Linked DNA regions of Homo sapiens. The protein of the gene in region 3 purifies or fractionates together with the protein of the main gene of each other region. This does not show direct contact. Each region holds a gene or a part of one and is shown on either strand. Other genes may lie near its edges.

Region 1 (3,786 bases), on a different chromosome or scaffold from region 3:
GATTGCGCCATTGCACTCCAGTCTGGGTGACAGAGCAAGATGCCCTCAAAAATAATAATAATTAAAAAAAAGAATGGAATTCAGATCAGGTCATCAGTACGGTGACAGAGGGGCCACAAGATATTATGGGGGGAGAATTAGGGACAACCAATGCAAGCTTTAGGACAAGGGGGATTCCAGCAAGTTTCCTCGGAAGTAGTGGCTGGCCCCAGGTCAAACCTGGAAAGATACCACGTGTTAAACCACTCCGGGTGGAAGGGATTGCACAAGCAGATACCTTTGAAGCCCGGCCTGTACAGGGCATCCCAGCTCTCTCATTCTGCCAACCGGCAGTGCGAGGGTCCTTGTTCTTATCTTCCTGATACAGAAACAGGCCCAGGCAGGTGATGACTTCAGAGATGGTTCCTTGAGCTTTCTAGAAACATGCAGGATCCTTAGTAACCTTTAACTGGGGAAACCCAAATCTCCAGGGCCGTTTCTCACCCGCATCACCATTGACAGTTGGGGCTGTGCACTGTAGAATGTGGAATAGTGTCCCTGGCTGTCACCCATGAGATGCCAGTAGTATTCCATCCCCTCCAAGGGGTAACAACTGAAAATGACTCCAGCCATGGCCACGTGTCCCCTGGGGGCAGAATCACCTCCCCCGCCAGGTGAAATGTGATGCTCATTAGTAAAACCTGGTTCCCCTCTAGGGCCCATCATTGCCTTGGTGGGTCCTTGGTGTTTGTGGAGCCCCTGAGGAACTGCCACTAAGAGTGGGAACAGGGGCAGAGACCAGGAACTGAATCCTGCCATCCAGTCAGTTCTTAATCAGGAGGGAGCGGGTCTTGATAAAAAGGAGGAACCGTTAGGAACGGACTGTGGGAGGGTAGGCAACGTGCCCGAGGGTGGACAGCGGGTGCCCTTGTCTTTTCTTTGTCTTGTGACTGACCTGGATTTCTGGAGGAACTGTCCTCGTCTTAGAATGATCTGTTGCTTTTCTTCTGAGATTAGAGGTATTAGATTCTCTCCCAAGAGCTACTTTGGAGGTTGCCCCGGATAAACGTCGCTTTTGTAAGCTGCATTATCTCTTCCATGGGCCCTTTCGCCCGCCCGTTCCCAAGCACATACTGCTGAATTTTTGTTCTTGGTCCATCTTGCTGTCCCCTTCCCTGCTTGGCCCCCTCCTTGACCGTGACTTTGCTGCTTTACCTTGATTGGAGGAGACGCTCTGGGGCCACGGGACTGACGGTCCCTTCTGGGTGCTGCCCCCACACCCCACCCACCAGCCCTTTGTGTGCCCGGCATCCCCAGCCCAGCTGTGCCAGGCTGCCCCTGCTCGGCCGGCCATTCAGACGGCCCCAGGCGGCCTCTCGGCAAAGCAAGACAAGCCCTTCTCTTCTGCCCTCGTGGTCCCTGGAGTGGCAGAACAAAGGGCTCTGTCTCCACACCAGCCCACCGCCGCAGCCCAGAGCCCCGTTCCCTTTCAATTTCTATCGTGGCTGGGAAAGAGCCTCAGAGATTAGGCATGTTTCAGAAATGCAGCTGACGAGTTTGGGTTCTACTCATTTCCTCAGCGAGACTTTCTGAGCCCGAGCCCGATGATAAATAAAGTAGTGATTCAAGGGTTCAGCCCATGGGTTCGTCGGAGTGATGAATAAGATATCCTTGTCTGACTCACTTGTTTAAAACCCATCTCTGCCCTGCTGCACAGGGCTGTATGTGCAAGAGAAGGAGCCCCGCTAGGGGTGTTTCATGACTGTTGTTGCTGGGTGCCTGAGTTTGCTAGGGCTGCTGTAACAGAACCGCACGCTGGGTGGCCAGAACGACAGAAGTATATTGGCTTGCAGTTCTAGAGGCCAGACGTTTAAGATCACATTCAAGATCAAGGTGTTGGCAGGGTTCGTGCCTTCGGAGGGCTGTGAGAATCTGTTCCACGCCTCTCTCTGTTGGCTCATACATAGCCGTCTTCCCCTGGGTCTTCACATCGTCCTCCCTCTGTGCCTGTCTCTGTGTCCAAATTTCCTCTTATGAGGACAGCAGTCATATGGAAGGGGGCCCACCCTAATGACATCATTTTAACTGAATCATCCCCATAAAGACCCTGTCTCTAGGCGAGGCTTGGTGGCACACGCCTGTAATCTCAGCCCTTTGGGAGGCTGAGGCAGGAGGATCACTTGAGGCCAGGAGTTTAAGACCAGCCTGGACAACATAGCAAGATCCCATCTCTACAAAAAAATACTAAAATTAGCTAGACATGATGGTGAATGCCTGTGGTCCCAGCACTTTAAGAAGCTGAGACAGACAGATCGCTTGAGCCTGGGAGTTTGAGGCTACAGTGAGCTATGATCATGGCACTGCATTCCAGCCTGGGTGACAGAACGACACCCCCATCTCTTAAAAAAAAAAAAAATCCCAAATATACTCATACTCTGAAGTTCTGAGGTTTAGGATTTCAATATGTGAATATTTCTTTGTGGAGGGGAGTGGTGGACACAGCTCAGCCCATAATACTGAGAAAAGGACAAATTCAAATTACATTTTTATTTATTTGTTTATTTATTTTGGGGGCGGGGGCAGAGTCTCACTCTGTCACCCAGGCTGGGGTGCAGTGACGCGATCTCAGCTCACTGCAACCTCTGTCTCCCAGGTTCAAGTGATTCTCCTGCCTCAGCCTCCCGAGTAGCTGGGACTACAGGCGTGCGCCACCACGCCCAGCTACTTTTTGTATTTTTAGTAGAGATGGGCTTTCATTGTGTTGACCAGGCTGGTCTTAAACTCCTGACATCAGGTGATCAGCCCGCTCGGACTCCCAAAGTGCTGGGATAACAGATGTGAGCCACCGTGCCCGGCCTCAACTTACATTTTTAGATAATATAGGAACCTGGAGGGAAATGATCGTGTCAATAGAGAATAGGTCCATTTTGTCTCTTCTCACTCCTTTAAATAAACACTTTAAGGGTGAGCAGGTTGGTTGGCCACATCAATTTTGGACGCTCCCTGTTTTCCAGATCTCACACTCATACATTCAGGGGTGACTAAAGAGAGGTGAGAGGCCTGGTGCAGTGGCTTACGCCTGTAATCCCAGCACTTTGGGAGGCCGAGGTGGGAGGATCACCTAAGGTCAGGAGTTTGAGACCAGCCTGGCCAACATGATGAAACCCAGTCTCTACTAAAAATACAAAAATTAGCTGGGTGTAGTGGCACACACCTGTAATCCCAGCTGCTTGGGTGGCTGAGGCAGAAGAATTGCTTGAACCCAGGAGGCAGAGGTTGCAGTGAGCCGTGATCTTGTGCCACTGCACTCCAGCCTGGGCAAGAGAGTAAGATCCCATCTCAAAAAAAAAAAAAAAAAAAAGAGGCGAGGACCCAGCCCAGGGCGGAGTGGGTCCCATGGGATTTTACAGGGGATGTGTTGAGGGCCAGGTCCACAAGGCTGCGTGTGCCTGGTGGGGAAGCAGGATGAAGTTTACAAACAGGGCATGGGGCGGGGGTATATCTCTGTTCTCAGTATTGCCAGGGTCAGGGGCAAGGAATATCCAAAAGTAACTACACTCTTGGACCCAAGTGACCTTAGGACCAACTGCTGTCACAAGTGATTGAACAAAAGAAGTTTCTGGAAGGTCTTAAAATCCTTCAGCAAAAAGGAAGTATTGGCTGGGAGCCAGGCTCAGAGCTGGCCCTTGGGGAGACTGAGGAGAACAGAAATAGCCCTCGCCTCTGTTCAGATGTTCAGCCAGGAGTCACGAGCATGGAAGTCAAATTAACAGCCCAGTGGGGTCTGTGAAGGTGCCGGCAGCAGGC
Region 2 (3,786 bases), on a different chromosome or scaffold from region 3:
GCAACCAGTACTATCCCACTGTTTCCTAATAACCAGGGCCTGCAGAGGGACTGAGCTTGTGGGTGTATATGTCTGTGAGAGTAATACCAGAAAATAAATCAGGAAAGGTAGATTGGGGCTATTTTTGTGGAAATCATTGAATGCCAGGCTGTAATTTGTAGTTACTTTGGTAGACAATGGAGGGTTGTTAAAATTTTTTGGAGTAGAATAATGTGATTAGAGTTCTGTTTGAAAATCTAGAATAATGTGCAGGTTAGATTATCAAAAGAGAAGATAGGAATGAAGAGACTAGAACAATAAGTTAATTAATTTTTGAAAAATGGAATCTTGGGCCAGGTGCAGTGGCTCAGGCCTGTAATCCCAGCACTTGGGGAGGCTGAGGCAGGAGGATCACTTGAGCCCAGGAGTTCAAGACCAGCCTGGGCAACAAAGTGAGACCGTGTCTCTCCAAAAAAAAAAAAAGAAAATTAGCCAGACATAGTGGTGCCTGCCTGTGGTCCCATCTACACGGGAGACTGAAGCAGGAGGATTACATGAGCCCAGGAGGTCGAGGCTGCAGTGTTCATGCCACTGCACTCCAGCCTGAGTGACAGAGAGCCTGTCTCCAAAAAAAATCTTGAGGTGATCTCTAGAGTCTGCTAAATTCCTTTATTTCCACAATGTGCTGACCAGTCTAGAGTAACATACATTGGAATAAATGGCATACCTGTCAACAGGAATATATACCCCAGTGTGGGAGTCAGTTAACTTTATGTGGTCAAGAGGCTAGCCCAGTCTTTTGTATTATAAATGATATTGTTAGTACTTCTAATAAAGCAATGGCCTTACCATAAGTTCACAGATCTTGCCAAGGCCTTCCTCAGTCAAACTCCATCTATACCTGTGAGTCCTACATTTCTGACTTTTAAAAGTCAGAACCTGTCTATACCTGTGAGTCCTACATTTCTGTCTTTTAAAAGTCAGAACTCCTCTCTTTTTGCCAATTCCTTAAACTTCTTGGATGGGAAAGAAGTTTAGTTTAAACACATTAGCAAAAGAATGGGAGGTCCTCAAGGCCCAGGCAACCCATCTCCTTTGAAACTGATCAATACCGGACTATAAAAACTTACTGCTCAAATCCAGCTAGTACCCAAAGTATGTACTGTCTATATACCTGTCTATACCTGTGAGTCCTACATTTCTGACTTTTAAAAGTCAGAACTCCTCTCTTTTTGCCAATTCCTTAAACTTCTTGGATGGGAAAGAAGTTTAGTTTAAACACATTAGCAAAAGAATGTGAAGTCCTCAAGGCCCAGGCAACCCATCTCCTTTGAAACTGATCAATACCGGACTATAGAAACTTACTGCTCAAATCCAGCTAGTACCCAAAGTATGTACTTTTTAAATGTATTCTAAAAAATTGAATTTGGGGTTTAGGTATTACTGATCCAAATGAGTCCTATAAAATTAACTTCCAGAACTAGGTTCTCAGAGAGGCCACCATTACCACCTTCTTCAACATAACTAGCCTATATTGACTTTCTGTCCATCAAATAATTGGAGGCCATTTGGGTGGTGATAGGAAGAATTAAGTTTATGCAGAACTTGAGGTTCAGCTATCTGACACCTTTTGCGGGAGGAGGAGGAGTGGGTCTATCTGAAATCAGAAATAATACTTTTATGAGGCTTTTTAATAATTTTTATTACTTACAGAAAATTTCTGAAAGTTCCTTTCTCTGGCTCCCAATTAAATGGCTTACTCCACAATCAACTTATAAAAGCACTGGATCATTGTCTTGATCCCAAAAAATTTGTCCCAACTATAGTTACTATTTTGAGCATCTGTATTATTGTTTGAAAACCTTAGGCTTGCTTTCCCTGATGGCCAATGAATAAAACTCTCAAAGTCGTGTGATTCATTACTCATTAATTCATTAGATATTTATTGAACCTCTACTATGTGCCAGGCACATTTTTGAAACCCACTAATGAGCAATTTGTAATGACAATTTACCTCTTAACTATCTATGAAAAAAATAACTTGCCAGGATTTGAAATCCTTAGAACAAATGAGATTAAAAGATCATAGCTTTTTTGTGTTCTTTCAAATAGTGTGTTTGCATAGAGCTGCCATGTGCTGACCACAGTGATTATCTGTGAAATGAGGTAAATCATGGCTTTAACCACTCCTTATCAGACTTTGTTACCACATGTACTAAAATAAAGTTCTGTCTACACCTTTATAAAATATTATCTTACACAGACGTCTTATTAATTCTAATGGCCTCTCCACACCTGACCCTCACTCCTAGTCATTTCAAAGTTTGCAATTGTGTAAAGTCATTTCTCAGAAAATTTGAAGCAAAACAAAGTCACCACAAGAAAAACTTGGTATACACCAGGTTTATATTGAGGACAAAAACTGTGACACAATTACAAATGGAACTTTTTTTTTTTTTTTTGTGATGGAGTTTTGCTCTTGTTCCCCAGGCTGGAGTGCAGTGGCGTGCTCTTGGCTCACCACAACCGCCACCTCCTGGGTTCAAGCAATTCTCCTGCCTCAGCCTCCCGAGTAGCTAGGATTACAGTTGTACACTACCACGCCTGGCTAATTTTGTATTTTTAGTAGAGACAGGGTTTCTCCATGTTGGTCAGGCTGATCTAGAACGCCCGACCTCAGGTGATCCACCCGCCTTGGCCTCCCAAAGTGCTGGGATTACAGGCATGAGCCACCGCACCCAGCCTACAAATGGAACTCTTGAGGTAGAAATGGTAGACCAGGAATAAAATTATTTTCATGGTCAATGACACCTTAGCCATTGATAGCTGTGCCTAGTTACAGAGCAATAAATGGAGAGCCTTGGTGTTAGATGAAATCCTAAAAAGTCACCTGTTTTATCTCCTTGGCCCCAGACAGAATAAAGTGGAATTTATAGCAGTAGAGTTACCAAGCATCATCATCACACCAAGTAGGTTTTGTACTTTGAGAGCTGAATTCCTCTCTGAAATATTGATGTTACAGGAATGTTGTTTAAATTCATAGCTCATTTATAAAATTGAGAATATTTCTTACATTTATAACTGTGTTGTGTTTTCCTGAGTTTTTCAAGATATGTTTCACTTCTGTACTTTGCTCACTCAGGAAAAATATTTATTTATTAAAACTCTAGCTTGTCAGGCACTGAAGTTAGAAGGATGAGTAAAATCTAATCTGTGTACTCAAGAGGGTTATATAATAAATCTTGATGGTCATTCTTACATGCCACATTATACAGATCTCCAGATGGCTTAGGCTTAGTTTTAAAAGGAAACGTTTTAATTGGGGGGAAATTGAAACCCCAAAAAAAAGCCATGAACTTCCTTCCTGGAAATATTTTTGCCATAAAAAGCATATTTGGTCTTGGATGTGATTCTTTTTGTGAAAGTGCAAGTTGAATCAGACATTAGAAGTTGGACATAATCTTCTAATTTTAGTAAACATCAAATTATTTTTAAATATTTGTGTTTGAACATTTATGGAAAAGAGATTAGATTTACCTGTTTTATCCAGAGGACAGAAGTAAGACTCAGAAGTTGAAAAAATGGAAATATTTTATGTCATTATAAGAGTGGGAACTGGTACATCTTTTATTCCTCTTCAATATGGAAATCACTGTATTTACTAATTATGTGTTCATTATTAAAAAAGGGGGAAAAATTAAAGCACAATATCAAAAGGTAGAAGGAAAAAGGCAAAAAAGTATTAATCCTATTTCTTAAAATGATATTTACACTTGATGGATATCGTTCTTGATTATTTTTCTGTAT
Region 3 (2,813 bases):
GGCCTTAGTTAGCTGCTGCCAGCCTAACCCAAAGCCGCATCCAAGAGAAGCAGGCAGCGAAGGGGCTCTGTCCTCAGATAAGAAGTCTCAGGGAGGAAAAGAGAAAAACAAAAACAAAAGACAGCTCTGTTTAGGAGAAGGGTGGGACTCTGCTCCTGATCTCAGCACATCTTGGAACCAGGCGGTTATAATACTTGCAGCGGTGGAGATGGCTGCAACGTATCTAAAAGGATAAGGAGAAGGGAGGCCCAGGCTCTGTAAGAGAGGGCTTCCATGGAATTCTCAGGGCTGCTGGCTGGCCCCTTCCCATGAGAATCAGAAATGAGGCTCTGGGAACCTGTAGAAGCTTTTGGAGCTCAAGGCATGGACTGCAGGAAGAGGGGAGAAAGGAGAATATTGTCACAACAGCCACCAAACCCTGATGCGAGTGAAGAATGAGTCTCCTTATCCCTCCCGCCGCCTCCTCCCTCCGCTGCAGCTGCCTGGAAGCCTATGATGCAGGTGGCAGTGCTGCGTCACTAAGGTCACAAAGGGCCCAGAGCACCCACGGGAAGGGAGGCCCCGCCCCAGAACCCCAGCAGGCAACTGTTTGAAACCTCCCGAGAAGTGAACAGCTTTCAGTAGGAGTGCCCACTCCTTCTCCGCCTGAATCGAACTCTCCCACATGCTCCGCAACAAGGCCGCGAGTTCTGAGTTCCTATCAGCTGGTTTAAAAGCTGTTCTCCTTCACTTGTGATACATTTTCCAAGAAGAGACTGGAAAGAAATGGAGGAGATGGCACAGAATAAGCAATTTATTGCAATTGAATTATCCAATGTGGTTGACTGAATATAAATATTTTTATTACAAAATATTCCAGGTAAAAATTCGGAGCTGCTTACAAGCTTCTTTAGCTTTAAGCTCATTGCATTTCTTCATGTCTAGAGCATGGGTGACGGGCTCAGGTGTGCCTGGCCTGCCCCGCAGGGTCCTCCTTCTCCGTCTGCAGTGGGTCCCACTCAGTGAGGACCTCTGAGGACACCTCAGTGAACAGATGGTCCCAGTCCCAGCCGACATCATCCTGCCAAGAAGGGTTTCGCTGGGTAAGACAAAGAAAGGCCTTTTCCCTCAACTGTAGCTGACTTCTCCCTCCCATCCAGGCCTCAGGGAGGCACAGGCCAGCCCGGGAGTCGGCTGGTTATGGGAATGCCAGAGCTGAGAGACCGGGGAATTGCTGCCACCACTGTACCTCCCGGACTTCGTGCTCCGGCGCGAGCACTTTGGTGAGGAGTTTCAGGTCGATCTCCCCATCCTGTGAATGCAAACAAAAAAAGGTCAGGCTGAGCACCTTGAGGGCTTTCAGGCAACTCTTTCTCACAAAACCGGGATCAGTTTTTGTGTGTCAGAACTTCCCAAACTGAGACCTGCAGGAATGCCTTCACAAGAGAGTAAAATCATGAATGAACCACATGCCCACTGAGAAATGAGGGAAGGCTATGCTTCCCACATGCTGGGCGTGCTTTGGGGCAAAGGACCATACCAGGAGGACCGAGTGTGACAGCAGTACAGCCACAGGGACAGAGGGGAGTGGGGTGCCATCAGGTGCCAAGTGGGCAGCCATGGAGGCAGGTGGGAGCCTGGCACTGAGAAACACTGTACTATGTTGGGTCCAGGGTTGCTGTGAGATGAATGATGATAAAACCTGCAGCAGAGGTATGGGTGCCAGGCAGGCAGCCTCAGGGGACTGGTGGAGGCGCTGTATAGCTTGGGAGGAACTGAGAAATCTCTACGGATTGAAGCCCATTGCTTGGAGCCCGCCTCTCTATGCAGAAGCTGTTCCACTCACCAGTGTCTGAATGGCTGAGTACTTCATGAGGTCATTGTCCAGGTCACGGTAGGTCATCACCCGCTTTATCTGGATGCTGAAGGAAAGAGAGAGCGAGAGGCGGGAACCCCAGGCAGGACCTGTTCCAGGAGTGCTGCCGGGCCACCGTCCCCAGAACCTTGTATACAGCAGGGGATGACCAGAATGGGAATAACAAAATGGGAACCCTGGATGGAGCCCAACACCAGAAAGATCCAGATTGACATCAAGGTCCACTATAGATGATATCTGGAGTGTATTAATTCACGTGTTCTTTGCCTCCCCAATCATATCTGATTTAACCTACCTGGGAGGGGCTGCCACCTGCAAAACAAAGTCTTCTTCCTGTACTTCCTCCAGATCCGGAATGATAGGAATATCTGCAAGGAGAGGCAGAGGCAACACTGTCTGCAGAACTCATAGGGATTGTGCCTGCTTCTCCACTTCTTACTCATTCCCCTTCAACACACCAGCCATGGGGCTGTGGGCTGGGGCAGGAAGGACACTCAGATACAAACTAGGGGTAGGATCAAAGGTGGAGTTTCAACGATGTCTGAATCCCAGGCCTCATTCCAGAACCTGCTGAGATAGAACCTCCTGGGTCACGCTCAAGCATCCAGATTTTTTTCCCAGGCGTTCCTTGGTGATTCTGACGCGTGCAACAGGTTAGAAGCCACTGCAGTGGATCTCCAAGGAGAAATGTAAAGAAATAAATGTAACAAAGGGCTTATTAGAGGAAAGAAGAGGAACTGACAAGTGAGCCTGGCATGGTCAGAGACAGAGGAACTGAGAACATGTAGTGTCACAAAGCGGATGCCGCAGTGAGTGCCACTCCTCATGACCCAGATCTCTATGTGCATTAGCCCCGCAGTGCAATCATCAGGGCCCTCAGCCTGCATCTCAAGGGCATCTTCCATCTAATGACATAGCCTGACTCCCTGGGATCCAGGCGTCCATTTGCCAGGTCTAA
Region 4 (3,252 bases), on a different chromosome or scaffold from region 3:
GGATTTGAGGCAAACCCCACCGTCTCAAATGACTCCCATATGTCTGGTGTAGGCAGACCAGGTGGTGGGGTCGTTGGCTTACTTAATTTTGCGTCGTTACGTTTTGCTTTCTTAAGTTTGCGTTGTTAAATTGGTAATATTCAGTTGACATGTTTGAATACTGAGTCCAAAAAGTTATTTTCATTTTGAATTAATAAGGAGCAAGATAATTTTTGTCCTTTAATTTATGGCTTCCACATATTTTTATTTTGTCATGATTTTTTTTAAGGCAAGGTTTTTCATCAATCTTTTAAAGTATTATACAACCAAAAACAGGCCGGGCACAGTGGCTCACGCCTGTAATCCCAGCACTATGGGAGGCCGAAGCAGGCAGATCACCTTGTCTAGGAAGAGCCAAACATCAGAGCAATCAACATCTCCTATGGGCTTAGTGAAATCCAAGCACTTTGTCATTAAATCACAAAAAACCTAAGACATTACCATCATCATCATCCCCACTTCAGGGGAAGAGCTCACTAGGACACAGAGTTTACCTTGCCTGAGGCCCCACAGCTATACAGTGACAGGGATGGATTTTGTTTTGTTTTGTTTTTGAGATGGAGTCTCGCTCTGTTGCCCAGGCTGGAGTGCAGTGGCATGGTCTCGGCTCACTGCAACCTCTGCTTCCCAGGTTCAAGCGATTCTCCTGCCTCGGCCTCCCGAGTAGCTGGGATTACAGGCACCTGCCACCATGCCCAGCTAGTATTTTTTATTTTTAGTAGAGATGGGGTTTTGCCATGTTGGCCAGGCTGGTTTCGAACTCCACAGCGCTGGGATTACAGGCGTGAGCCACCATACCCAGGCAGGGCTGGAATTTAAACACAGGCATTGTCTGCCCTCAGGCCCTGTGATTGGAACCTTCCAGGGTTTTGAGTCAACTTCCACTTCACCCCTGTGCCCAACCCTCCGGGCAGGCCAGCACTCATCCCCAGAGCCCTGCCACTGTGGGCCAGCAGGGGAAGCCTGGGCCTCCAGGTGTCAGCCCCCACGTTACAAGGAAATGAGCAAGGGGCAGTCTGTGCTGCCTGTTTTCTTCAAAGCAGCAGTGTGAGCCCTGCCAGCATCACTTAGAACTTGTGGGAAATAACAAGCATCAGGGGCCCCTACACCTACTGAGTCTGGGGTGGGGCCCAGGAACCGCTCTCACAAGCCCTCTGGAGCCTGCTGATGCCACTGACATTTGAGAACTGCGTTGATTATGCTTTTGGTTTCTCTTTGGCAGTTTGGATTTTTTGGATGATCTTGTTTGGTTTGGGATATTTAAAAAACAACAAGGCCGGGCACAGTGGCTCATGCCTGTAATCCCAGCAGCTAGAGAGGCCGAGGCGGGCGGATAACCTGAGGTCAGGAGTTCGAAACCAACCAACACGGAGAAACCCCGTCTCTACTAAAAAAGTTAGCCGGGTGTGGTGGTGGGTGCCTGTAATCCCAGCTACTCGGGAGGCTGAGGTAGGAGAATTGCTTGAACCCAGGAGGCGGAGGTTGCACTGAGCTGAGATCGCGCCACTGCACTCCAGCCTGGGTGACAGAGTAAGACTCTGTCTCAAAACAAAACAAACAACAAAAAAACCAAAAACAAAAAACAAAAACAACAACAAAAATCCCCACAAGCTCTAGGAGTTTGGGATAGAGATACAACTGAAGTCTCTAATACAGCTCCTACTCGTTTCTGTCGACAGGTGAGCTTAGACTCCCGGGTGAGAGAAGTGATCAACAGAAACATGGTGGAGCCATCCCAACACATATTCGATGATGCTCAACTTCAGATTTACACCCTGATGCACAGAGACTCATATCCTCGATTCATGAACTCTGCTGTCTATAAGGACTTGCTTCAGTCCTTATCGGAGAAATCTATTGAAGCATAGGATTTTTCAAATATATTTATTATTAATAAAATAATAAAAGAATTCATGGGCTACAACTAGCACAGGGAATTTAGAGGTTGTAGCATCTTCTGCTGGAGTAATACTCAGGCTATTCTAATAACAGATGATTCCTTCAACAGACTGCTATATATTCACCATGTAAACTGCAGCCACCTTTAGTGATACTTTTGAAAAAAAAAAATAAAGGGATATGGCTGTTGTAGAAAGATAGCGTATTTGCATTTACAATAACAGTAGCATGTTGTCAGTGGCCAAGGCTACACAGAAGGCTCCCTGCTGCCCGGAGCAGGTACATCCACCAGAGCAAAGGGAACCACTTTTATTTTGCATGAGTTTGGTAACTGATTACTCTCCCCTCAAAGAAAAGACATTCAGGTGTTTCTCAACGACATCTTCTGTCCAGCAAGCTCGGTTTGAATACGTCACTTACCAGTGCCATTGCAGGACCCAAATTCACAGTTCATAAAAGATGTGACCACTACATGTAAAAATAGCATTCTACTTGATCTTACAGTATGTATGTATGTATGTATGGAGACATATGTGTGCGTGTGGATGTCTACATGGTTAATGGAAAGCACTGTGCTCTGAAGTGGATCAGTCTCAAGTGTCTGGTAACAGCAGCAGTGCTTAGAAAATTCTTTTGTTGAAAAGAGTTACTGTTATTATCAGAATTTGCCAACCTAAAGAATGAATTTTTAAATTCATAACTTGGTCATGTTCACAACAAAACTGTCAAATAAGCATATTTCCATTTTTATTACTGAAAGAAATATGGGCATTTTCATTCTTTAAAGAAATAAAGCACAAGAATTTTATCTCAATCTTTATTTTTCCATATGTACGTATTTGGGAAATAGAAGATTAAGAAAGTAGGGATACGTGCAGCCTATCTTTTAGCTCCCAGACTAGGATTCTGTCCTTAGATCCCACTATTTTTATCATAGATAAAAAGAATAACTTCTCACAGGTAAAACTACCAGTTGGTAGACCTAGACCATCCTGAAGAAATCCATCTCTACATAGAATAGGAAACACACTCAAAATCTGGGACGCTCTGAGTAGTGGGAAAGACGCTACTTTGCAGGAGGCGGCACCGTGCTCCTGCCCTCGAGGGGAATGGTTCTCCTCTGGGTCCTTCTCCCTCCCTGGCCCCTCCATAGCCTGCCTGTATCTTCATGACTCAACTCAAGCCCCAAACCCAAGCCCCTCTCCTTCATTCTCAGGAAACCATTTTACCTCCTACTCTACTATGCAAATTGTGTCCGTAAGTCCCCTCAACTTCCCGTGCAACCTATAAATATATATAGATCAGCGTCTATTC

Evidence for each region. The genes of interacting proteins can lie anywhere in the genome.
Region 1: the proteins of IFT43 (region 3) and MYO9B purify together in Homo sapiens (affinity purification with mass spectrometry; one large-scale study listed by BioGRID and IntAct). This does not show direct contact.
Region 2: the proteins of IFT43 (region 3) and SENP8 purify together in Homo sapiens (affinity purification with mass spectrometry; 2 studies listed by BioGRID and IntAct, with this or other methods). This does not show direct contact.
Region 4: the proteins of IFT43 (region 3) and RGS20 purify together in Homo sapiens (affinity purification with mass spectrometry; one large-scale study listed by BioGRID and IntAct). This does not show direct contact.

The regions. Positions count from the first base shown.
Region 1 is NC_000019.10:17,078,491-17,082,276, forward strand, and holds part of MYO9B (unconventional myosin-IXb), read left to right. Parts: intron 1-3,786. UniProt on the Homo sapiens protein: Myosins are actin-based motor molecules with ATPase activity. Unconventional myosins serve in intracellular movements. Binds actin with high affinity both in the absence and presence of ATP and its mechanochemical activity is inhibited by calcium ions.
Region 2 is NC_000015.10:72,121,117-72,124,902, forward strand, and holds part of SENP8 (sentrin-specific protease 8), read left to right. Parts: intron 1-3,786. UniProt on the Homo sapiens protein: Protease that catalyzes two essential functions in the NEDD8 pathway: processing of full-length NEDD8 to its mature form and deconjugation of NEDD8 from targeted proteins such as cullins or p53.
Region 3 is NC_000014.9:76,081,705-76,084,517, reverse strand, and holds the end of IFT43 (intraflagellar transport protein 43 homolog), read right to left. Parts: intron 2,224-2,813; coding exon 2,151-2,223; intron 1,902-2,150; coding exon 1,826-1,901; intron 1,292-1,825; coding exon 1,229-1,291; intron 1,061-1,228; coding exon 941-1,060; 3' UTR 776-940; downstream 1-775. UniProt on the Homo sapiens protein: As a component of IFT complex A (IFT-A), a complex required for retrograde ciliary transport and entry into cilia of G protein-coupled receptors (GPCRs), it is involved in ciliogenesis.
Region 4 is NC_000008.11:53,956,552-53,959,803, forward strand, and holds the end of RGS20 (regulator of G-protein signaling 20), read left to right. Parts: intron 1-1,718; coding exon 1,719-1,907; 3' UTR 1,908-2,752; downstream 2,753-3,252. UniProt on the Homo sapiens protein: Inhibits signal transduction by increasing the GTPase activity of G protein alpha subunits thereby driving them into their inactive GDP-bound form.